Linked DNA regions of Homo sapiens: regions 1 and 3 are each linked to region 2. Evidence: fine-mapped QTL for protein levels in blood plasma. Region 2 holds a variant in brackets. A gene starts in each other region. All regions are shown on their forward strands. Region 1 holds the start of REG1B (regenerating family member 1 beta). Region 2 overlaps CTRB2 (chymotrypsinogen B2). Region 3 holds the start of SERPINI2 (serpin family I member 2).

Evidence for each region. PIP is the posterior inclusion probability: the model's chance that the variant is causal. Protein levels are from antibody-based Olink assays in UK Biobank. Linkage for the fine-mapping came from a reference panel and not from the study's own genotypes, which makes the PIPs less certain.
Region 1: it holds the start of REG1B, and the variant in region 2 is fine-mapped to the plasma level of the REG1B protein (UK Biobank, PIP above 0.99).
Region 3: it holds the start of SERPINI2, and the variant in region 2 is fine-mapped to the plasma level of the SERPINI2 protein (UK Biobank, PIP above 0.99).

The regions. Positions count from the first base shown.
Region 1 is chr2:79,083,337-79,091,521 of GRCh38, forward strand. REG1B (regenerating family member 1 beta) reads right to left here and starts at 4,657. Exons shown (of 6, transcript NM_006507.4): 1 at 4,623-4,657; 2 at 4,213-4,322; 3 at 3,476-3,594; 4 at 3,031-3,168; 5 at 2,156-2,267; 6 at 1,687-1,947. The coding sequence starts at 4,276. The coding sequence ends at 1,880.
Region 2 is chr16:75,197,561-75,205,745 of GRCh38, forward strand. It overlaps CTRB2 (chymotrypsinogen B2), which reads right to left. Exons shown (of 7, transcript NM_001025200.4): 4 at 8,182-8,185; 5 at 7,773-7,953; 6 at 7,213-7,346; 7 at 6,543-6,762. The coding sequence ends at 6,601. Among named protein-coding and RNA genes, the nearest start is that of CTRB2, 5.5 kb to the right of the region's middle. RefSeq lists enhancers at 252-752, 1,791-2,085, 3,937-4,016. The variant C/A (reference allele first, on the strand shown) is at 3,414.
Region 3 is chr3:167,472,305-167,480,453 of GRCh38, forward strand. SERPINI2 (serpin family I member 2) reads right to left here and starts at 1,738. Exons shown (of 9, transcript NM_006217.6): 1 at 1,699-1,738. It overlaps WDR49 (WD repeat domain 49), which reads right to left. Exons shown (of 19, transcript NM_001366157.1): 19 at 6,380-6,692. The coding sequence ends at 6,574. It overlaps LOC105374197 (a long non-coding RNA gene), which reads left to right. Exons shown (of 3, transcript XR_924683.3): 3 at 2,068-2,156.

The DNA.
Region 1 (8,185 bases), not on the chromosome of region 2:
GTCTGCTGAAGCTTGGCCCACAGCTGCCCCTTCCCCCAGGTGCTCTGTCCCAGGGAGATGGGAGTTTATCTATAAGCCCCTGACTGAGGCTGCTGCCTTTCTTTCAGAGATGTCCTCCCCAGAGAGGAGGAATCCGGAGGGGCAGTCTGGTTATAGCGGCTTTGTCACACTGCAGTGGGTTCCACCTGTTTCAGGTATTTTGAGACATCTTCCTGAAGAATTAACTACTTTATTATTATAAAATACTCCTTTTCTTCTCAAGTAACATTTTTGCTTTAAAGTCAAATATGTCTGATATTAGTATCATTGCAGACAAAACCAGTCCCCCAAAAGATGGAGTCTTTCCCTATTTGGTGTCACAAAGCCAATACATGAAACAGAAAGTGAGTGTCAAGCACTGCAGGATTTATTTGATGGCCATGGAATTGAGAAGCAGGAACATGACTCACAAATTGGCTTCTCTGCTAGTGAGGGGTAAAGTGGTTAAAATATAGGGTTTCTCCAATGAAAGGACTGGGCATTAAAAACAAAGGGAGGAATATTCATGTCTTTTCTGGAAATAGGTTGTGAACTTCCTAGGAACCAGAGTGTGCTTCCTTTTTGTACCTTTATTGCTTCTTCTGGCCATTGTCATGGTGATTGTCAGCTGTCATTGTGCTGGTAGGAGTGTCATTTAGCATGGAAATGAGATTATAATGAACCAGATGTCTTTCTGAGGTCCTTTGATGGTGATCTTGATTCTAACCAGTATCAGCTGGACTAGTTATAAAGGAAACTTTTTACCACAGGCATTCTGTTTCTTAAAGATAAGCAGAGTTCAGACAGGGTAGAAATTCAGCAATCTCATATAGGCATTACACTGGGTAACAGTACAGAAACCAGTGTTCTTATGGTTTCTGTTTGCAAGATATGTCTATTTCCTTCCTTTTATTTTCAAGCTATTTGTGTCTTAATTTAACTCATGTCTCTCATACATAGCATACAGTTGAATCTTGTTTTCATTGTTGTTACTTTAATCCAGGATGACAATTTGTTTCCTTTGTTATCAAATCACATTTAACTCTATTATTGATATGATTGATGTTATGGGCTGAACTGTGTCCCTGCACAATTAATTTGTGAAAGTCCTAAGAGTAATATTTCAGAATTTAACTTTATTGAGAGTTAGGATATTTAAAGAGATGATTAAGTATGCCTGTATATTTAATTTACATAATTGATCATTCACTTATTCATTCATCCAAGGAGTAGCATTTAACAAACTTTGCAGGCTGGCCTCCAAAAATGTACCACTAATGCACTCAGGACCGCAGACCTGACAATTCTCCTTAAGTTATCATTTCAGTCATGACTTCAAATTGCATAACCAAGAACAGATGTGTTCTCCTCAGACCCCAACTATGCGAATTCTTCTGGAATATTAAATACTCCAGTCAGACTGGATCAACAATTTAATTATTTGTGTAATTCACACTAGGTTCATGCTAACATGTGTTGTGGATGAAATCTTAATCTTTTTATCTTGTCATAAACAAGGCCACCACATGTTCATAAGCCTGACATACATAAAATGTGAGTGGGGTTTTAACAAGTGGATGGGCCATGGCAAGCTCTGGAGTGTGACAATCATTCCCACCCCAACCACCCAAGCATGGGCTGTAGAAAGAGCAAATGCAGAAGACAGAACACTGGATAAAAATAAGTTTGTTTTTATTTTTCAGGGCTCTAGAGACTGAGACAGGTGAAGGTACTGAAGATCAGCGATGCAAACTCATTAGGGAGGAGATGGTCTGAACTGAGTTGGAGACATAGTCTAGTTTAATTTTTGACTTCATAGTAATTGCAGGACCAGTTCTAGACATCCATTTTTCAGCTTCCTCTAGTTTTTGAACTTGCAAACAAAGGAGAACTTCTTCTCACAAGATTCATCCTTCCATTTCTTGAATCCTATGGTACAATGAGAAGTGTCAGACATAGAGGATCAGAAGGAGTGTAGCCCCTCCTCAACCTAGGACTCAGAACAAAAAACTAGAGGAAATACTTCTTTATTTTCCAGATAAGGAGCTTACCTTTCCTCTATCCCAGTCCCCATGTTCATCCCCAGAGATAAGTGGGAAGGAAATGGCAACAGGTGGATAGATTGTCTGCCTCTCACCTGAGCATGAAGTCAGGCTTGCACAGTAGCCAGCATTAGCACTGCTCGGGGATCCAGTGTCCCAGGACTTGTAGGAGACCAGGGACCCACTACTCCAGTGCCAGCGGCGGTTCTAGATGGAGAAGGGCCAGAACAGGGGCCATGGTCACTCAAAAATCAATAGAATAACCAGGCCTGTGTGCACACTCAGAAACAGGCCAAGTTATAGCAGAAAGAATAAACATTGTTGTCACCATGAATATCATATCATTTCCTCTGCTTTTGCTCTAAGCTTCTCCTTCTCTAGAATGTCCGAATTCCTCCTCCTCTTCCAGCAAATAATAAGTGTTCAGAATTTGATACAGAGACCCATAAAAGCCCATTAAAGAGAGTGGTTTCTGATTTTTTTCCTGAATCTCAGAACTCTCATATCCAGCATAACATTGGCTGTAGAGTAGTCGTTGATATATTATTTAGTTTATAGTGTTAAACTAAATAATATACTGTACAGTTTTATACACTTGTATAAAATGTATAACAAATGCCAGCAGTAGATTCTCCTCCACTACTCATTTTCTATATAGTCTACAGAGGGACCTCTTCCAAGACAGACAATAGCAAAATAGGGAAAAAGTTGTACATAAAGATGCATTTCTAGAAGTAGACACAATGAGTGGGTGCATGAATTCCCAGAGCCCAGAAAATTCAGCCTTCAGCTCATGTCTCTAACTACCTACACTGAACTTCACAACTCATACATTATAGGATCTATAAAGAGGTTGCTTTTATTTAAACAAACAAAAAGATAAAAGTTGGTGATTGCGGTGCCAGACCTTAAACGTCCCTCTTACCTCTCAAAAATGTTTATAAGGAGATAGAGGTGGCTGCAGACTGACCTTTTTTGGGTCATGGAGGCCAATCCAGACATTGCTGTCATCAGTGCTACTCTCCTTAATCAGTGAGGCCACGAAGGCACCCTCCGCCTGGGTGAGCACAGACACCAGGTTGCCTGAATTCATGTTCTGGCAATAGAGCTGTTGGAGAAGAAAATGGAGCACTCAGTGGAGAAGGAAGGTGTGAGGGATATACTGAGACCTTCCAGAGGATGTAACAGAAAAAGGACAGCACAGAAATGTCCCTGATGATGCTGTCACTGACCACCAGCATCTCTGTGCTGGGAATGTGTCAAATGATGGGATAAAGTAGATTGGGAAGTTTGGGACCAGTGGTGGAATAGGGAAGGGATCAATCTTATCTCATTGCAGCCACAGAACACACTGCAAATTAGCAGCTGCCTCTACCTTCATAAGCCTCCCTTCCCCTGCTGCTCTCCTCACTCACATCTGCATCAACCCAGGTCTCAGGGTCTTCATTAAAGTAGTAGCAGTAGGAGCGATAGGCATTGGTGCCTTCTGGGCAGCTGATTCGGGGATTAGGCAGCTCTGTCTGGGACTCCTGGCCTGGGGAAAAAAAAAAGGAGATAATTAAGAAAGAATCGCAGGGCAAGGAAAAGGCTGGAAGGTGAATTAGGGGCTTCTTGGTGTCCTTTATAAGAACATATGGATACAGTGAATACTGGGGCGATTGCTCACTTCTGCCCTCCTGCATCCTATCTCTTTTCTCTCTAGTTTCCTCTGCTCAAGACAAGAGCTCACAATGAATAGGCTAAATAAATGAGTCCTCGTTTTCCTTTAATTCTGAGGCTGAGGCTTCTGCCTTTAAAGACCCAGGCTTCCTCCTTTCTCAAGTTTCTCTCGGTTTCCCTGCACACGTTTGCCTTAGCTCTCCATCCTAGCAATGACTACATAAAAACATCCCCCAAACTGCCATCGCATATAGATTCAATCAGATAAACTCAACCACAATGGTCACCTATAAGTGGTCCTATTAAATTCTGTCTCAAACCCATGAATGAGGTGAGGGTGTTTTTGAATGGGATAAAATCAGCCATAATGATCACTGAACAACATAAAAAAACCCTGATGTTGACTCTGCTTTTTTTCAAGTGAACCTTATACATGAGGATGGAGGGAAGAATTCAGAGTTGGGGTTGTGGGAAGTGTGGGGGAAAATCTCACCTTGGCTCAGAGACAGGAACATCAGGGAGGAGATCAGCATGAAGAACGAGTTGGTCTGAGCCATGCTTAGCGGCAGTGAATCTCTTGCTTAAGGAGCAAATCAGCAATCTCTGTAGGAGAACACAGGGAAGAGGGTTTGAAGAAGAGAGCAGAGCACCTGTTATCTTTCTAACATCCTCTCCTCTCTGAATTCCTGTGAGCCGAAAGGTCCACTGAGATAGCTACACTCCCAGATATTTCTCTTTTGGTTTGGGGATAACAGAGGCCAAATTACCCGAAATCAGCTTTGGTCTTGCTTAAGTTTCATTACTACTGGGATCTTTTATTCAGAAAATCACCCTGTATCTACCTCAAAATGAAAAGAGAAAATCCCACGTTAGACATGCTCTTCTCCTGTAATGCCCCTTTACCTGTTGGTAAGTGCCTTGTCCACTTGAGGTGGCTTGTCAGGTCAGACAGAGTAGGAGCTTTATATCAGGGTCTGAGAGAGAACTACATGATATAAACAATGGGTGGAGCAAGGAGTAAGGATCAGAAGGCCTACAGAGGGCACTGACAGTAAGAGATTCTGGCATCAGGAATAGCTTATTCCTGGCACACATTAGGAGTGGTCACAAATGACATCAACTTACCACAAACAGGTTGGCAAACTGTCCAAGTTGATGTTGAGCTTTGCTCTTCCTCTGCAGCATCCAGGTGTCCAGTTCCCATGGCCTTTAGCAGTCCTAGAAAGAGCAGAAGAGTAGATTTCTTTGTGCTAGGTAAATGTGGGATGATCCTTTCTTTGGTTTAGGCATGGGTAGGGGTAGGGGAAGAGTCAACTGAGTCCAAATGATTAAGCCCAATTAGCTGGTGGCTTTAAGTCATTTCTCCATTCCCTTTCAGGTTCAGGAACCTCTCAAGACCTACTTCAGAAGGCAAGGTGTATTAGTCCTTTTCATACTGCTATAAAGATAATACCAGAGACTGGGTAACTTAAAAAGGAAAGAGGTTTAATTGACTCATAGTTTAATTGACTCACAGACTTTCCTGAGGATGGGGAGGCCTCAGGAAACTTACAATCATGGAGACGAAGGGGAAGCAAAGCATGTCTTACATGGTGGCAGGTGAGCAAGAGAGAGTGGAGAGGGAAGAGCCCTTTATAAAACCATCAGATCTTGTGAGAATGCACTCACTATCAAGAGAACAGCATGGGGGAAACTACTCCCGTGATCCAATCACCTCCCACTAGGTTCCTCAATCCACACATGGGGATTATGAGGATTACAATTTGAGATGAGATTTGGGTGGGGACACAGAGCCACACCACATCACAAGGTTTAGTAGTTACGTAAATTTAAGCCAGCGTTTCCAGCAAGGTTTCAGCATAAGTAGCTAGCATGATACAGATGTTCTCAAAGTCCAAGCAGGTGGGAACTGCAGGGAGCTGATGCCTAAGTAAGCTCAAAGTAATGGAATATGAAGTTGTTGGTTTGAAGTCAATTGTCTGTTGTTGTGAAGTTACAGATAGTGATGTGAAATTAAAAGCTTACTGAAATTCCCATTAAATACCCATTCAGAATCAGGGAACAAGAGCAAATCTGGAATTTAAAATTCAGTTGAAAAACTAACCAAAATGTTCACAGAAATAAGGATGGCTATATCAATTGGGATAAATGACAAAATAATATATTTTGAAATACTAACAGGAGTTAAATTAAATAAACTAAATATATTTATATAAACATGAGCTCATTTCAAAAGCATATATAAACAAAATGAATTTTAAAAGTTGCAAAAATTTACAAACTAATAATATTTATATGTGCTTTAAAAAAGCTAATTATTTATATTTTTTTATCTATTCACATGTAGTTTAAAGTAAAATAAATCCGTAATAAAACACTATACAAAAAATTTTCATACTCATTAGAAATGCAAAATGTTTGTTTCTCAGTTCTGCAAGGAAAAGTCAGCATTCAGACAAAAAGTTCTCTCAGCGAGGCAATTTTTAATTTCTGCAGAAAGGATGCCCCTCACAGATGGAACAATGGCAAGGGCATACACAGAATGAAGAGACACCAGAATATTTATTCCTTACGCATGAGGTCCCTATTGCTGTGTCCTGTCTCCATTGGCTGGAGCCAGACCTCACAATCTAAATTAAAACCTGATTGGCTAATAATTTAAAACTTTTTAAAATAGGTACAAAAATAATAATATTTCCAAATAAGGAAGGGGCACAGGCTGTGAACTAGGACATACCTATGAGCACGTCCAACACAAATATCTTGGTTAAGGTACAAGGACATGGAATGTACTACGTGCCTGTGACTGTTCAACAGCTATATAAGATAGGGCTTAACAAAGAGTTATTAGCGTAAAGCGAGGGGGCTTGAAGGAAGTTCGTCTTTAAAATAAACTATTATTTCTAACACTTATGATTTATTCTTTAACAAGAAGGGAAACTTTGAACAGGGATCTTTTTACCGTTTACATTACTGTTTTCCTGGAGAATATATAATTTTGTCCCTTTATAATAATCATTTTAAACATAGATGACAGAGGTTAATACTGTTTAGTCTAACAGGTTCAAAAGTGTTTGTCAAACTACTCTAATTTATTTCAGCATTTTCTAAAAATAATTTTCTTTAAAGCTTACAACCAGAGAAAGATTTGAGTTTTTTTTTCTGTAAGAATTTCAATCATATTATTCAGAGTTAGAAAGGGATGAAGAAAAGAGAAATCTAGTATGCTTGTTACCATAAGTTTATCTTGCCAAAATCAAACGAGCAATTATTAGTAGTAGTAGTAGTATTATCATTATTTTTGAGACAGGGTCTCTCTTTGTCACCTAGGCTAGAGTGCAATGGCTCAAACAAGGCTCACATCAGTCTTGAGCCCCTGGGCTCAACTGTTCTCCCGCCTCAGCCTCCTGAGTAGCTGGGAGTATAGGCGCACACCTCCACGCCAGGCTAATTTTTGTATTTTCAGTAGAGACAGTGTTTTACTATGTTGCCCAAGCTGGTCTCAAACTCCTGGGCTCAAGCCATCTGCCTGCCTCAGCCTCCCAAAGTGCTGGTATTATGGGCAGGAGCCACTCTGTTGGGCCAATTTTTAAAAATTAATACAAAAAAATTATTTGTGGTAATTTTTTAAATGAGAGTTTTTCTTTACATCAAGAAGACTTCAACTAGACAATGACTTTTCAGGTACAAAAGATCTAATACTTTCAAATATATAATAAAACACATTGTGGCTAGCACGATATGAAAGCATTTTAAAACAAATAACAGTTGACGCAACTCTCATAAAATGTTTATTGCCCCAATAGCTGTATGCCCGTTTAGATAACTAACCGTTATTGCTCACATAGGTTACTGACCAAATTCCACAGGCCAGGTAGTAAAATTGAGGACATTTACTGGCAGCCACTTTGGTTCCAAAATGATGCCTTTGTCAAGGAAGCCATATTTCCCAATCCTTTAAGATTTATCTCCTTGTCCTCAGGATTCTGAAGGTCCTGTCCCCTGAACTAGTTTTACAAAGTTCTAAGAAGCTGATTTTAGGCCTTTCCTATCTATTTCTTCTGTTAGTCTTCACATAGGTGGAAAGGGGTAAACTGGATAACTAGTGTTAGTATATCCCCAAATGGGGGCAATTTCTTGATACGCCTCAATAAAGCTTAGAGAGTTTCAAGACTATGGCTTATTTTTAGCGCTATTGGCCATCTTCTATCTGCTGTTCCCTGTTTTCCACCTTTTAACAGATTTTAGACTTATTATGGAGACAGAATCTCTCTTTTGTTTAAAACTTTTGGCAGGCATGTGAATAACAGCCTGTCTGCAAACTTCAGACTGGAAAGGAAAGGAGCTGAAGGAGTACCATATGCCCCAAGAATTTTCCATGGTCCGCTGTATTGTGCAGATGTAAAGAAACTTCCTTATAAATTAGCCTCTTCTGCTTCACAGGAAAGCTTCAGTTTATTTAACAC
Region 2 (8,185 bases):
AATTTTTATTTTTTATGGGGACGTGGGTCTTGCTATGTTGCCCAAGCTGGTCTTGAACTCTTAGGCTCCAGCAATTCTCTTACCTCAGCCTCCCAAAGTGCTGGGATTGCAGGCGCGAGCCGCTGCTCCTGGCCCTACGTTCTATAGGTATTCTCTCCCCTCATACCTCAAACTCCTGACACAGGGCACCCACTAGTGGATAGTGTTCCCCAGAATACCATTGCATTTCATCAGCAGTGGAAGCTTTCACAACCTCATTGCTACCGTGTGCCCGACCTATCTACGCTTCCTCTACCAACCATGAAGAGGTCCTCACTGCCAGCCTGGTAGTCAGCAGTCCAGCTCCAGAATCCCACCTCAGCATCCGCATTTTGCAGCTCACTCCCGGCACACACGATCATAGCTGGAGCTCCCCACAGGAAGTAGACTCTGAGATAAAGATGACCACACAGAAGTTTACTGGTACCCCAGGAGCAATACCTTTGGAACCGAAGACTCGTAGGGGTAGGGAAAGAGCAATGTTGGGCAGAGGAAGATAGAGCCTCAACATCGTCCCAAGTTTGGGTGAAAAGACTGGACCTTTAAAAAACCCTACTGACCAATCACTGGATGCAGCTGCCCAGAAAGGAGGCAGGACCCGAGGTCAAGATGATGCTCTTCAGCTGAGGAAACTCCCAAAGAGGACGGCAGCTGCGGACTGTCTGCTGTCCACAGCAGCGCGTGGGGAGGTCGGCCTGCAGTCCTGGAGGGAATCTGGGTGGCTAATCACGCAACCACTAGATTAGGTACAGATGCAGGCTGGTCCGAGACAGGATTCTCTTGCGACTGCTCCAGACGTTTCTGTTAGTAGAAAGCCAGATCACCCGATGGGCGGGGAGAGGCGCGTGCACTGTTTAACGTGGTCTAACTCAGACCAAGGGTGGGGGAACCCCCGCCCGAGGAGGAATCTGTTTTTAAGCTGAGATTAAATCAAGTGCGACCCCTGATTAAACTCAGCCTTTTGCTTAACTGTACTTGTCAATATAACACATAATTGGAAGCTTTTAAGCATATTTGGGACAATTTGGGTGTGAGTCTACCTTTTCAACTGTAAGTTTTACAAGATGTAAATGCAGATCGAGTATTTCTCATGAAAATGTAGCATCCAGGTGGAGATGTGATGGAAGTGCAAATTACACACTAGGTTTGAAAGAGTGTAAGAGTGTAAAATATATCATTAATAATTTTAAAATACTGATTACATGTTGAAATATGTAGATATATTGGGTTAAATAAAATATATTATTAAAATTCTTTTTTCTTTTTTTTTTTTTTTTGAGACGGAGTCTTGCTCTGTCGCCCAGGCTGGAGTGCAGTGGCGAGATCTCAGCTCACTGTAAGCTCCGCCTCCCGGGTTCATGCTATTCTCCTGCCTCCGCCTCCTGAGTAGCTGGGACTACAGGTGCCCGCCACCACACCCGGCTAATTGTTTTGTATTTTTAGTAGAGACGGGGTTTCATCGTGGTTTCATCGTGTTAGCCAGGATGGTCTCATCTCCTGACCTCGTGATCCGCCTGTCTCGGCCCCCTAAAGTGCTGGGATTACAGGCGTGAGCCACCGCGCCAGTCCCTCTTTTTTTTTTTTTTTTTTTTAAGAGACAGGGTCTCACCACCACACCCAGCTAATTTTTGCATTTTTTTTTTGTAGAGAAGAGGGTCTCACTATGTTGCCCAGACTGGTCTCGAACTCCTGGGCTCAAGCGATCCGCCCGCCTCAGCCTCCCAAAGGTGCTGGGATTACAGGCGTGAGCCACCGTGCCCGGCCTCTTTTTACTTTTTCAGTAGGGCTACCAGAAAATTTAAAATCATCCATTTGGCTCGCCTTGTATTTCTTTTGTATTTCTTTGAAACAACGCTGGGTTAGGAACAGTAAGGCATAGCTATATGCAGTTTTCATATTGGCCACCAGGTGGCAGCCTTATACCGGGTGGTTTTCAGACTCTTGGGAGGCCGGTGGGTGGAGCGGGGGACAGACGCAGATTTCACCAGCAAGTGAAAAAGTCCCTTAGCCAGGTTTGTGCTTGCTATTCCATTTTTATATTACTTACGCCTCACATTTATTTGTATGTAGATGGTTGTTGACATAATAAAATACATGTAATTTCCTCTGTGTTTAAGAGCAGTTCTCCCTCACTGAGCTGGGAGTTTCCTTAAGAAACCTGGCTCTTAATTATATAGAGAGAGACTGGGCGCGGTGGCTCTAATTATATATAGAGACACCCAGCGCGGTGGCTCACACCTGTAATCCCAGCACTTTGGGAGGCCGAGGTGGGTGGATCGCCTGAGGTCAGGAGTTCGAGACCAGCTTGACCAACATGGTGAAATACATGTCTCCACTAAAAATACAAAAATTAGCTGGGCATGGTGGCATGCACCTGTAATCCCAGCAACTCAGGAGGCTGAGGCAGGAGAATTGCTTGAACCTGGGAGGAAGAGGTTGCAGTGAGCTGAGATTGCACCACTGCACTCCAGCCTGGGCAACAGAGTAAGACTCCATCTCAAAAAAAGAAAAAAAAATACACACACACACACACAGAGAAAGACAGGGTGACAGGGTCTTGCTCTGTCACCCATGCTGCAGTGCAGTGGTGTGATCATAGCTCACTGCAGCCTCGAACTCCTGGGCTCAAGTGATCCTCATGCCCCAGCCTCCTGAGCAGCACATTACAGGTGCCACCCGCTGCACCCAGCTACTTTTTCTTTTTTTTAAAGGAGTCTCACTATGTTGCCCAGGCTAGTCTCAAACTCCTGGCCTCAAACAATCCACCCGCCTCTGCTTTTTTTTTTTTTTTTGAGACAGTCTCACTCTGTTGCCCAGGCAAGAGTGCAGTGGCACCATCTTGGCTCATTGCAACCTCTTGCCTCCTGGGTTCAAGCAATTCTTGTGCCTCTGCCTCCTGCGTAGCTGGGATTACAGGCATGTGCCACCACGCCTGGCTAATTTTTGTATTTTTGGTAGAGATGGGGGTTTCACCATGTTGGCCAGGCTGGACTCGAACTCCTGACCTCAGATGATCCGCCTGCCTCTGCCTCCCAAAGTGCTGGGATTACAGGTGTGAGCCCCTGCGCCCGGCCGGCTTGATACTATTTTTAATAGTCGACTTTGGATCCCACTCCTGTGCCCAAGCTCTCTCTCATTTTGCTTTTCCCCTCTTCACACATCCATTCTCCAAGTTAATTTCTCTTCATGTCCTTATAATTAAATTCCATCTATAACCTTAATTCCAACCTATTAGACGCATCATCAGAACGGCTGACAGTGCACGGGCAGAGAAAGGTATTAGGAAAGCCAGTGAAGTAGAAAATGCAGGAGGGAGCCCATTCCATTCCTGCCAAGATGCCGGGTTAGTGTGGAATGTTGGCTGCCCCCCAGGA[C/A]CAGCCATGATAGATTTTTTTTAGATGGAGTCTCACTCTGTCACCAGGCTGGAGTGCAGTGGCAAGATCTCGCCTCACTGCAACCTCTGCCTCCTGGGTTCAAGCGATTCTCCTGCCTCAGCCTCCTGAGTAGCTGGGACTACAGACACCCACTACCACACCTGGCTAATTTTTGTATTTTAATAGCAATGGGGTTTCACCATGTTGGCCAGGATGGTCTCAATTTCCTGACCTCATGATCTGCCCTCCTCGGCCCCCAAAAGTGCTAGGATTACAGGCGTAAGCCACCATTCCCAGCCCATGATGGATCTTTAGAGGGAAACATCAAGAGACAGGAAGACCTGGGAGAAGAAGCAAAGATCGGAACCTGTGGTTACGTGGGGAGGCTAGAGCTGTGGCCCAAGGCAGAAGGCTGTGAACTCGGCTGTGCAAGGAAAAAACAGGAAGTGAGCACCAGGGTTCTGCTCTGCTTCCGACCCAGCTCCAGGGCTTTGGGGCAATGGGTGCCTGCCCCTGGCCTGCAGGTGCCCTCAGGATAAAGTGGGTCATGCCGAGGCACTGTACAGGGGAGGAAATGAAAAAGACTTAGAACTATAAAGTGTGTATCAAATTGCAATAAAAAAGGCCAGGTGTGGTGGCTCACACCTGTAATCTCAGCACTTTAGGAAGCCGAGGTAGGTGGATCAGTTGAGGTCAGGAGTTTGAGACCAGCCTGGCCAACATGGTGAAACCCTGTTCTTACTAAAAATACAAAAATTAGCCAGGCATGGTGGTGGACACCTGTAATCCCAGCTATTTGGGAGGCTGAGGAGGGAGAATCACTTGAACTCAGGAGAGGTTGCAGTGAGCAGAAATCATGCCACTGCATTCTAGTCTGAGCATAAGAGCAAGACTCCATCTCAAAAAAAAAAAAAAAAAAAATACAATGAAAGCAGTGTTTGGAGGAAAGCTTGCCTCCTGAAATACTTTTATGAGAAAAGAACACACTGAAAATTACTGAGCTGAGTATCTAAATTTGTGATGTTAAAAAATCACAAATGGATACATACAGATTAGGAAGCCAGCATTACCCTGATACAAAAGCCAGATAAAAACATCAGAAGAAAATTACCAACCAGTATCTCTCATGAATATAGATGCAAAAACCTTCAATAAAGTACTAGCAAACTGAACCCGACAGCATATTAAAAGGATTATACACCATGATGAAGTGGGAGTTATCCCAGCATGCCAAGCGCTATAGGAAATAACAAGAAAATCCATCAGCGTAATATGCATTAATTGAATGAAAGGGGAAAATCACGTGATCACTTAAATTGATGCAGAAAAGGCCTTTGACAAGATCCAACACCCTTCATGATAAAAAGCACTCAGAGGCTGGGCGCGGTGGCTCACGCCTAATCCCAGCACTTGAGGACGCCGAGGCGGGTGGATCACCTGAGGTCAGGAGTTTGAGACCAACCTGACCAACATGGTGAAACCTCCTCTCTACTAAAAATACAAAAAATAGCTGGGTGTGGGGGCTCACGCCTACAATGCCAGCTACTGAAGAGGCTAAAGCAGGAGAATCTCTTGAACCCAGGAGGTGGAGGTTGCAGTGAGCCGAGAAAGCGCCATTGCACTCCAGCCTGGGCAACAAGAGCAAAACTCCATCTCAAAAAAAAAATAATAAAATAAGTTAGCCGGGCATGGTAGCATAGGCCTGTACTCCAAGCTACCTGGGAGGCCGAGACACGAGACTCACTTGAACCTGAGAGATGGATGTTACAGTGAGCTGAGAGCGAACCTCTGCACTCCTGCCTGGGCAAGAAAGCAAGACTCTAAAAAAGACTGTCTAAGAACCCCATGCAGGCTGAGTCAAGGAAACTAAGAAACTAAGCATCTTGGTAAACCAACGAAAATCAAAGGTAAAATCTTAAAAGCATCCAAAGAAAATCCATTAAACCTTTTTAAAAAGCAACAGTAAATCACTGACTTCTCCACGAATCAACAGAAGCCAGGAGACACTGAAACACCTTCCAAGTCCAAATATCCATGTACATACCCACATGCACGTCTCAACAAAAATTATTTTTCAGAGTGACAGGCAACTTTTACAAGATCAAAATGAATAAATATCTTTTCAGACAGTGGAACAACAGGAGAATTTTCTCCAACAAAATTTTCACTGCATTAAAGGAAAGACTAAAAGTTTCCAGAGAGAGAGAGACCGCCAATCCGGACACATCCTGGGAAAGGAACCGGCCCCCTCCATGGCCTGGCCGAAGTGATGGAAGCTGAGCGTGAGGAAGCCTCAAGATCTAACTGCAGAGGCCGAGCGCGGTGGCTCATGCCTATGATCCCAGCACTTTCGGAGGCCGAGGCAGGCAGATCACCTGAGGTCAGGAATTTGAGACCAGTCTGAACAACATAGTGAAACCCCATCTCTACTGAAAATACAACAATTAGCCGGGCGTGGTAGTGAGTGCCTATAATCCCAGTTACTTGAGAGGCTGAGGCAGAAGAATGGCTTGAACCCAGGAGGCAGAGGTTGCCGTGAGCCAAGATGTCACTGCACTCCAGCCTAGGCAGCAGAACAAGACTCTGTCTCAAAAAAAAAAAAAAAAAAAAAAAAAAAAGTCTAACTGCAGGGTCACAGAAAATGCAGAGAGGGAGGCGGGGAAGAGTGTGGGAGCTGAGAGGACAGTGGCGCCAGCTCCCAGCAGTGGATGCAGAAGGTGTGAGGGGCTGGGGTCTGACGGGGGAGGGGGTGATGCTTGCATGCACATTCCTGAGCACTGGACATGGGGGACTAAAGGCAGAGAAAGGCACCTGGAGTGTGTGGGTCAGCAGTGGTCCCAGTGACAACTCCAGGGGGCTATGGATTGCAGAGCCTGGCCAAGGACTGCTGCCTTCCAGAAAGCCCCACGGGTCAAGCTAGCTTCAGCAGGTAGGGCCTAAATTCTAAACCCAGGGTGGAGCCGTGAGCAGGCAAGAGATATGAAGACCTCAGCTTCCTGAGAAGGCTGGGTTGCCAACATTAACTGCAGCCTGGAAAGGGAACGGTAGTGCTGCCCCTTTGTGGGTGACAAGGACAACTTCAAGCCCACCTCCCCTGGGCCACACAGACACAGGCAGTGCAGTCAGGGCTTCTAAACAGATGCATTTAATGGGAAATCTTAAGGCAGGGGTGGCAGGAGCTGCGGGCTCAGTTGGCGGCCAGGATCTTCTGCACCCAGGGTATGAGCTTGGCGACACGGGCGTACACAGCGGGCGTGGTGGTAGAGCAGGTGCGGCTGCCCCAGGACACAATGCCCACCAGGGTCCAGGCTCCGTCCTTCTGGCAGACCAGGGGGCCTCCAGAGTCACCCTGCAGGAAGGAGAGGAAGTATCTCTAGGCCTGAAAGGGGTGCCAGGGCCTAGGGGACCCTGACCTGGTGGAGTCTAGGGAGGGGTGCGGAGAAATGGTAAGCATGGGCATAGGGGCTGTGCCGGGGTCCTGAGATCTGGGTTCACATGGCAGCCCCCACTCTGCCATGCACTCTTGGAGGGAGCTGGGGCAGGTGGCTTCCCTCTCTAAGCCGGGGCACCATCCATCTCTCCAAACCTCCAGCTCACAGGGCTGCAAGGAAGTCCCCAGGGGCAGCCTCAGCTGCATGGCCTGGAGGAACCCTCATGGGCGGCTGTGACCCCAAGGCCTGGCCCTCACTGGGCCCCAGGAGGGTGTGGGGTTAGTAGATGAGAGCAGAGAGGGGTGGAAAGCCCAGACCTCCCCTGCACCCCGCTCGCCTGGCCAGGGCCTGGGCAGGGCCAGCCTCACCATGCAGGAGGAGACGCCACTGGCCCCGGCACAGATCATCACGTCGGTGATCCTCCTGCCCCAGGACTTCTTGCATTCGGCATTGGACAGGAGGGGCAGGGCTGCCTGCTGCAGCTTGTCAGGGGTCTTGTTGGCTGCAGGACAGGAGGAGGGTCAGGGCCCCTGGGCTCACTCAGCCAAGAGTGGAGGGAGAGACCCGGGGCCGACACGCCTGCCCTACCCTGCACCATCACCACGATGTTGGGTACGGCCCCTGGAGCCTCAGAAGCGCCTGTGGGACAAGGGGGCCTCGGCCCTGCCCGGGTGGGAGCCCCACGCTGCGACTCCAGGCAGGTCAGCCAGGGCAGGGCTCACCCGGCCGGGCGCTGCTCAGAAGCTCCCTGTGCAGGCTCCTCATGATCCGACCTGGATTTTATTTGCATTTGGGGGATTTTAAATTCAGAAGATTTTCAATAACGAACGGGCAGTTAGGAGCGTGTTGGAATTTAGAGCCAAACGGTCACGGGGGGACTCCACGGCCAGGCAGCCCAGACCCCAGAGGCAGCCCCGCGGCCCCTCACCGTTGTACTTGGTCTTGCCCCAGCCTGTGGTGGCACACAGTGTCCCCGCGGGGAAGTCGTCGTCGGCGCTGGGCAGGCACACGGCGGACACTGTCTGGGAGAAGCGGGCAGGTGTGGCCAGCTTCAGCAGGGTGATGTCATTGTTCACGGTCAGAATGCTGAACTTGGGGTTCTTGAAGACCTGGGGGTGGGGGCCAGAGTGCCGGGGTGAGGCCCTGGGAGGAGGCAGGACCTGCAGGCTTCGAGGACAGACTCCTTCCCTGGTGCCCGTTAAGGAGCAGTCCATCCCCAGGGCCGGAATGGGAATCACGAGGCCGGCCCGGCCCCACTGGGCGCCTGTCCCTGAAGCAGCCGAGGGGTCTCCCCCCGTGCCCACGGCCCTGCCCTCTGCTGCACGGGGCCTGGGTACCTTG
Region 3 (8,149 bases), not on the chromosome of region 2:
TATTAGAAAATTAATGTATTCTAAAGCAACTGAGTAATCTGGCTAACTTTTTACAATTTTCCTCACGCTTTATTTCTTAGGACAAAATAACCCAAAGCCCTCTTCCTGCTTTTCCAAAAGAAGACAAATACAATGCAGAAAACCTGCAAAGTTTGAAACAAAATGGCAATCAAATATAAATGATACAATAAAGTACTATGCTCACTACCTGGGTGATGAGATCATTTATACCCCAAACCTTAGTGTCAGGCCATATACCCATGTAGCAAACCTGCACATGTACATTAATCTGTAATAAAACTTGAAATTATAAAAGAAAAAATATAAATAAAATGAAATATAATATCAAAGAATTGACAGAAATACTAACAAATGTAAGAGTAGCAGCAATTAAAAACCATAAACAATTCACAAGACTAATAATACCCTATTAAAGTGCTCTCCACTAAAATTGCAGGAAATTCAACCATTTGATTATATCTCAAGCAGAATTAGTTTTGCAATATTACCACATATTTGGTAGAATGTTGACTCCAAGGCCTCATAAATTTTAGTAACAATAATTTTACCTTATAAATAATACATGTTAGTAATCCTTAAAAACTTATCCATCAGTAAGTTACTAGGAAGTAACCCTTAATTAGGGGTAAAGATGAAAGCCTTTAGAATAGTCTGTTGTCAGCCTTAAGTAGAGACTTACATTTCTAGAGTGTTTTGCAGATCATTAAGGGTACCATAAATGGTAGGAGTCCCTAAGAACAACTATATTTATATATAAAGATTACTAATAGTCAAATATTGTTCCAAATTAAACTATGGAGTCATTATTTATCCTTCAATGTATTTTGTTAAACTGTATTTGTTTAGATATATATTTGCAAAAGACAAAAGCCTCAAAAAACAATCCAAAGCAATTGTTAGAAAATGTGTTGGTAAACTTTAGATATAGACCTATATGCTATTAATATCAAGCAAATGTTTCATTAGGGATTAATTTAGCATATGAGCTTATAAATGAGAGTGCAACAATAGTTAAAAACCAGTGAGTAAGAGAAGTTTTACATGCAAAATAAATGTCTGTGTATCATTATCTTCTAATATATTCAATTTCTCAGAAGACTTCTGACCAAAATATGTGTTTGTAGATACGTAGTCAAAATGTTATTAGTACCTTTAAGTTATCAACTGGAAATACATTAGATATAGCTTTATGTATTTGGTTTATATTGGAATAATGAACAGTATTATTAAAAATGTAATTTTTTTCTTTGTGGTAGAATCTCAGTATTAGAGTTTCCTTCTCATTATTATTAATAATCTTAATAATTAAATTTATATTATTTGAGCATCCACATCCATTTTTTCTAGAAAATTTCTAAGCACTTAATAAATTATAACCTCAGACAAATATTGGTTTTAAAAACTCACTTACCTCATCAGGTTTTGGATCATATCTTATCAGAAAGCACAAAGTAATGCTGAACTAAACAACCTGATGAATAGTCCTATAAGAACTGGATCTTCTGATTTGTGGTGAAATCATTTAAGGAGAATAAAAGCGATATGTTAATTAAATAAATTCAAATGATTTTTACACCAAAGTAAATTGAAATGCCATTCCATACTCTACTAAACATTCATAGGCAATGTTATTGCATACATACTTATTCAAAAGCTATTTATTTCTAAGGTACTTACCCCAAACTGACTTCTGATTATTCACTGGAATGTTACAACTAAAATACGCTTGCTGGAAAACTCTTGTACATAAACACCTGAGCGATCAAGGCCAACTCCATTTATCTTGACCATTGCTTGATTAATTCCTCTAGAACAAAAGCAGGTGTTCACTACATTTGTATTAAGAACTAACACAATCGGGTTAATGATCAACTGATGAAATGTGCAAGAATTGAGAAAAAAACAATTATAGAATTTTTTAAAAGTATTAAATTTATATTATTATTTTATCCATTATTTTGCTTCTTTTAAAAGTTGCACAGAATTTGAAAGGATGCGCTACTGGTTGTAAATTTGCTAGTAATTAGTTCTTTTTGTTTCTCACAGGACTCCTACATCAGATTACCAATGCACTTTGTCATAAATATTTCAGAATGCCTATGAGAAAAAGAATAAAGCTAAATCAAGTCCAGAATACAGAGACAAATCACTGCTGCATTGACAGAGTTCTCAACATTCATCAAATTATACAATAGTCAGAGGAGTTTCCTGTGGATATAAGGTCCATTTGAATCCTTAAGAAAAAGAGTGGATATTGAAGAAATATGTTCTTTATTCTGAGCAGAAAGGCCAGCAAAAAAGATAATGGATTTGCCAAAATATATCAGGACAATACTATTAGCCATAGGTAATTGGATGATAAAAATTGCTGTTACCTTTATGTGCTTTTGAAACTCTACATGATTTTCTTTGCAAAAAGGTCATTAATAAAAAATTGCATAATTTAATGGGTTTCATCTCATTTTTGTAGTTCAAATCAATCACCTCAATGGCAATCAGATATTAAGCACATTGTATTATTTATCTATAGCCTTTGAGAAGAGAAAAAAAATTTAGTTCACTTTTAATTAAATATCTGTTGATCCCCAAATTTAATACTATTTCTGATAAACTCATGTAAAAGAAATAAAGTGAATATAGATAGCTTTAAATGGAATTCATTTTTAAAAACTTGTCAGAGGACCCTGTTAACATCTTTCCATGTCCTAACATGGCTATAACTTAAAAATAGGCCTGAGAATAGATCATTATAGGCCATAATCTACTAATTAACTAAAATTTTTTGATTTCCCATATAGGCATCTCCAAATGTTTTCTAGATCTTGAGTTTTATTCTAATATTACCTACTCTATCATAAGCACACTCTAGTGTAGCTTTAACTTAACACAGAGATAATTTTCCAAAAAGAGTTGTGCAATACAAGAATACTATCATTCTACTTGCTTCACACTGCAATACATAAATATTAAGTCTGAATGTCAAGACTATCATTCAATCAATGCTTTTCTACCCATTTACTGACACCAGCAAACATATATCACCAGTACCCTTGGCTACCACATCATTATGTCTGTACACTGCTCAGATCACAATGTGATTTATCCAGAAATAGTCCATTACTTTTCCTACCAATGGCAGAGACCGTCACTCTGTCCTACTAAGACCATTTAATGAAATTGTTCTGTAAGGACCTTATATTAGAGCAGTTCAGGCAGAATGTTCATTTTCCTGTCTCTTGAGGAGTAAAAAGCAATAGCCATAAATTTATTCTCCCTGGTTTAACCTCTTTTAATAGACAATGACGACAATACAATTGTCCATAAAATATTACCACAAATTTTTAAAATATTTTCCCAAACCGCTTTTTTCTACAATTCTATTTTGCTCCTAGAAAATCGGGGTGGGGGGAGAATTATTCATTAATGAGAGCCAACGTGTCTTGGTAGAAGGTTGATCGCCATTACTGTCCGACTGTAAAGTATAAGCCTAGGAATATATATAAAAACCACAGCAAAGGGTTACAGTTATCATCTCATCAATTTTCTTATCCTTTTATAGTTTTTTCAAGTAAAAGTGCACTTAATTCCAAACTTTAAAAATGTATAAGCAAATGCCCTCATCAGTAAAGAACTTAAAAGTTAATTCTTCCATTTAAGCATGGACTCATTTCAGGCAATTTTTTTTGGTAAGATTGTTCCTAAATTTTGAGTGATAATAGGAAAATGTTCTGACAAAAGAAAATGTTAAATTATATTTAGTGTAAATATAAGTAATACAAACAAGGTAGCCTATTGAAAATTATGACATATCCTATTTTAATGTGACCAATTCCTTTTACCACAGAAAAATGGATCATAAGTAATTGAATCTGAATGTTAATTTCAGAAACAGTTTATAATGCCTTCAGTTCTGTTAAGAGTTGACAGGTGAGATCCTGCTACCTGCCTAGAAAATTAGATGCTGTGAGTTACAAAAGAAGAGTAAGACACAGAAAAAAAGACATTGTCTTTTTTCTTCTTTTTGTGTTTTTTCTCCAAATTATTAGAAACAGTTACCTTGAAAGTCTCATACCTTTAAAAGTTCTCTTCTCATTGAATATATTTATGAGACAGCTCTTCTTAATTCCTTTTACAGAAGAAGCCCTGATGTTAATTAAGGATGGAATTAGAGTTACAGCATAATACCATGCACATGTAGTAGGCTATAGAGAGAAGGTCTGTCTGTATGAACCAGACTATCTCAGGCTATCACATCAAACAAAGTTATCTTCAAGGGTAAACAGTAAAGTATATCTAGCAAAAGAATTCCCAAATTAGACTGGAAAAAATATGCCAGATTATGAATTTCCAACTTATGCCAGTGGGCTCATTTAGTATTGGCTTAATAAACCACTACATTTTATATAGCTTCACTTCAGAACGCTGAGGGTAGAAAAGGTGCATTCTATTTATATGTGAATACCCGGAACCTAAAATAATCTCTTATACATGCCTTCAATACTTACATGAGGGATGGACGGATCAGTGGGGAAAAGAGCCTTTGCAAATTATTTGGTACCCGCATTCTACTTTTATAACATCTTAACATTCCATTAAATTTCTGGGCATGTGGCTCAGATTTCACTCCATTGTACTATCACCAACCTATGATTCATAAATCATGTGCTCTGAGTTTGAAATGATGGATTACCCAGTCAAACCTCCTACCCAGTGCAAGAAGTCTTTGCAATATCCCCGTGAGACAGTTACCCAGTGTCTGCTTGAACATCTCAAATAATCTTTTTGTTCAAAAGCAACTTTTTATATTTTAAAAAAATTTACCTTGAAATACTTTCAAATTTACATAAAAGTTGCAGATATAGTTCAAAGAACTGCTATCTCCACCTCCTCCTCTTTCCCCAATTGTTAGCATCTACCGCATGTGTGTGTTTCATCTATGTATCTATCCTCCCAATAAGCAAACAGATGTAAATATAGATATGTATATGTGTTACCTGTGTGTGCATATATATACATTTTATATATACATATAATTAGTATTTTCTGAATCATTTTATAGCAAGCTAAAAACATAATTTCTATCATACTTAAACATTCTATTATTATATTTTTCTAAAACAAGGACACTTCTTGTACATCATCACACCACCCAACAGACAAACACACACGCACACACACACAGAGACAAATATACTTTTCTCCTACAATCTTTCCTGCATGTAATTTTCATTCCATGAGGAGGAAAGGCGATATGAATAGAAGTCATAATGCCTAACTCAGAATACACTTAAATGTAGTTAGAATAGGCAGCTGTCTTCTGAAAGTCCTTCCATCACCGCCTTCTCCACCAAACCAAAATATTTGCTCCACTGGTGCTGGAAAGTCTAGTGTTAGAATTCATTCCATTGGCTTTATACTAATAAGAAGCAAGTGTACAGAATGATGAATGGCAAATACCATGGTTTGGGAGTAAAACAGACCTGGGTTCCAATCTCAACTCTGCCATTGATAATTGAGCACTCTCCTAATAGATTCGCATCTCATATTTTAGCTCTAAGCTAATATATTCATATGATTATTGTGTGGTTTAAACACAATGGACATTTGCAGTTGCTATACCAAGTGGTCCCCTACCTATTGCAAATTATTTTCCTTTACTACATGTGTTATTGAAAAATTCTTCTTAAACTTTAGCTGGTTTTGAAAGCACTCTTTAAAATATAAATATACAGTAAGTCATTATAGTTATGTAAATGAATTTACCAATTCTTTCTATAGGACACAATAAATAAAGCAGAATAATAATATTGCCTGGAAGATGATTATATTTGTAAATAAAAATGGGTCAACAAACAGAGGCAGTAAGTTAAAGAACCAAATATTTCCCACTTGACTTTCCACATAGAGTGGGTCCTTTATATAGCCCCAGGCCCTTTGATTTTTTTTCAAGACTATTACATCTTCAATGTGCTATGGCATTCAATTTTAAAGTACAGTATAACAAACTATTGAAGTAGATCATATGCAGTAATTTTCCAATAAGTTTATAGAATGAATAAAAGCCAATAAGAATTAACAGGAAGTGGTGCTATTGACAAAGTCTAATCACCATTATGAGAATCATTTAAAAACTACTAGAAAGTGTAAAAAAGTGGAAACAGTTTTCTTATTCACATTTGTAGATATTTACTCCGTCAGTACTTTTCATATATTTCAATGCAGGTTTTACAATGAAAACTGATCAAAAGTGTTTGTCTATAGGAACAACCAGAAGGGCAACTGGTTAGAACTTTGTTCTGGAATCATAAAGTTTTTATATAAAAATCCTTGAGAATAAATACCAAGATGTTGCTCCCACTTTAGTTCAATATTTATTTTATTAAGAATACAGAGAAATTGACAGATGATAGATAAAAGCAGTACTAAATTATCCCATGAAGAGAAAACTTCCTGAAGTTTAAATATAAAATAAAATAAAAGGCAGAATTCTTGATGCTTTTTCTGCATTTTATATCTGTACCTTATGTAACAGTGAAGGTTTTTCTGTTGTAATTACTTCTTATTTTTCTTCACTTCACAACTTTTTTCTTGGCATAATTGCTTGGCTTTTCGTTCATGATGCAGAATTTCCTTGGGAAACAGGTTTTTCTCATCAAATACAGCTTTCAAAGCTACAAAATGATGAGGAAAATCACAAGTGAATTATATTTGTTAAGAGACCTATTTAAATGAAATAGTGGGGAGAAAATTCTCAAATTTTGCTTTTTCTAAAAATCTTTGTTTCTAAAACACAGAGTGTATTTGGAAAAATTTTCTCTAAGCTTCTGCTATTCTGTTTACTGCAATTTACATCTAAAAGTTAAATTTTGGTAGAGTTTGTTCTTTTAATGCATATATCTTAATAGAAATCCACCATTCTAAGGGTAGAGGATTATAGAAGTTCCTGTTTTCCATTTTTGTTTTTTAATCTACTTAACAGCTATCAAGACATAAAGAGCCAAGAAAAAATTATTCTGTATTGAAATAAGGCAATTAAAATAGTCAAAACACAGTTTGACTGTCTGCATGAATAAACAAGCGCATCTATAATCACGTCCATAGGGGTTTGCAGTTTTAGGAAAAAAAAGAACCAAATTATTTCCATGAGTGGTTATATTGCGCATCAGTGAGAAGTAGGAGGAAATTGTGCCATACATTCTAGAAAATAATTTTGGCATTTTGCATAATTTTATTATTTAAACAAATGCTTATTGAATGTCTATTATACACAATGTTCTGTGTTGAGGCATAAATGAGGCACAAATATGACTAAGTCACAACCTTTCTTCCAATTGGTGGAAACTAGAAGCAGTACCCAAATAACCAAAACATCATATACAATAAGATATCATTCCAAGAGAATATAAGCAATGCAAACTGTGTATAAACATGTAAAAGATATTATAACAATATATAAAGATTTTTTAAAAAGCTTTAAGAATTAGGTACTTATTTGAGGTAGGTCTTGAATTCCAGATAGGACTTTAATTGAGAATAAGAAACATGGAGGTGGGGAAGAATTGGCAAGGGTTGGATAGGAAGTGTCAACTGGAGGAAACAAGGTGAATAAAGCATGGAAAAAAAGGCCGGGCACGGTGGCTCACGCCTATAATCCCAGCAATTTGGGAGGCCGAGGCAGGTGAATTGCCTGAGGTCAGGAGTTCGAGACTAGCCTGGCCAATTTAGTGAAACCCCGTCTCTACCAAAAATACAAAAAAATAAGCCAGGCATGGTGGCAGGCGCCTGTAATCTCAGCTACTCGGGAGGCCAGCTACTCGGGAGGCTGAGGTAGGAGAATTGCTTGAACCCAGGAGGCAGAGTTTGCAGTGAGCCGAGATCAAGCCATCGCACTCCAGCCCAAGCAACAGAGAGAGACTCTGTCTAAAAAAAAAAAAAAAAAAAAAAAAGGAAAAATAATAACTACTATTAGAATAACTCTGAATAATTCAGTACAATTTAAAAGAAGCATAAAATATGTGAAAGAAAGTAAAGTGGAATAAATTTGGAGCTGGACCTAGGAACACTTTAAACACCAACCAAAGCATATGAAATTAAAAAGTAAACATTGAATGACTTTACAGTATAGTGG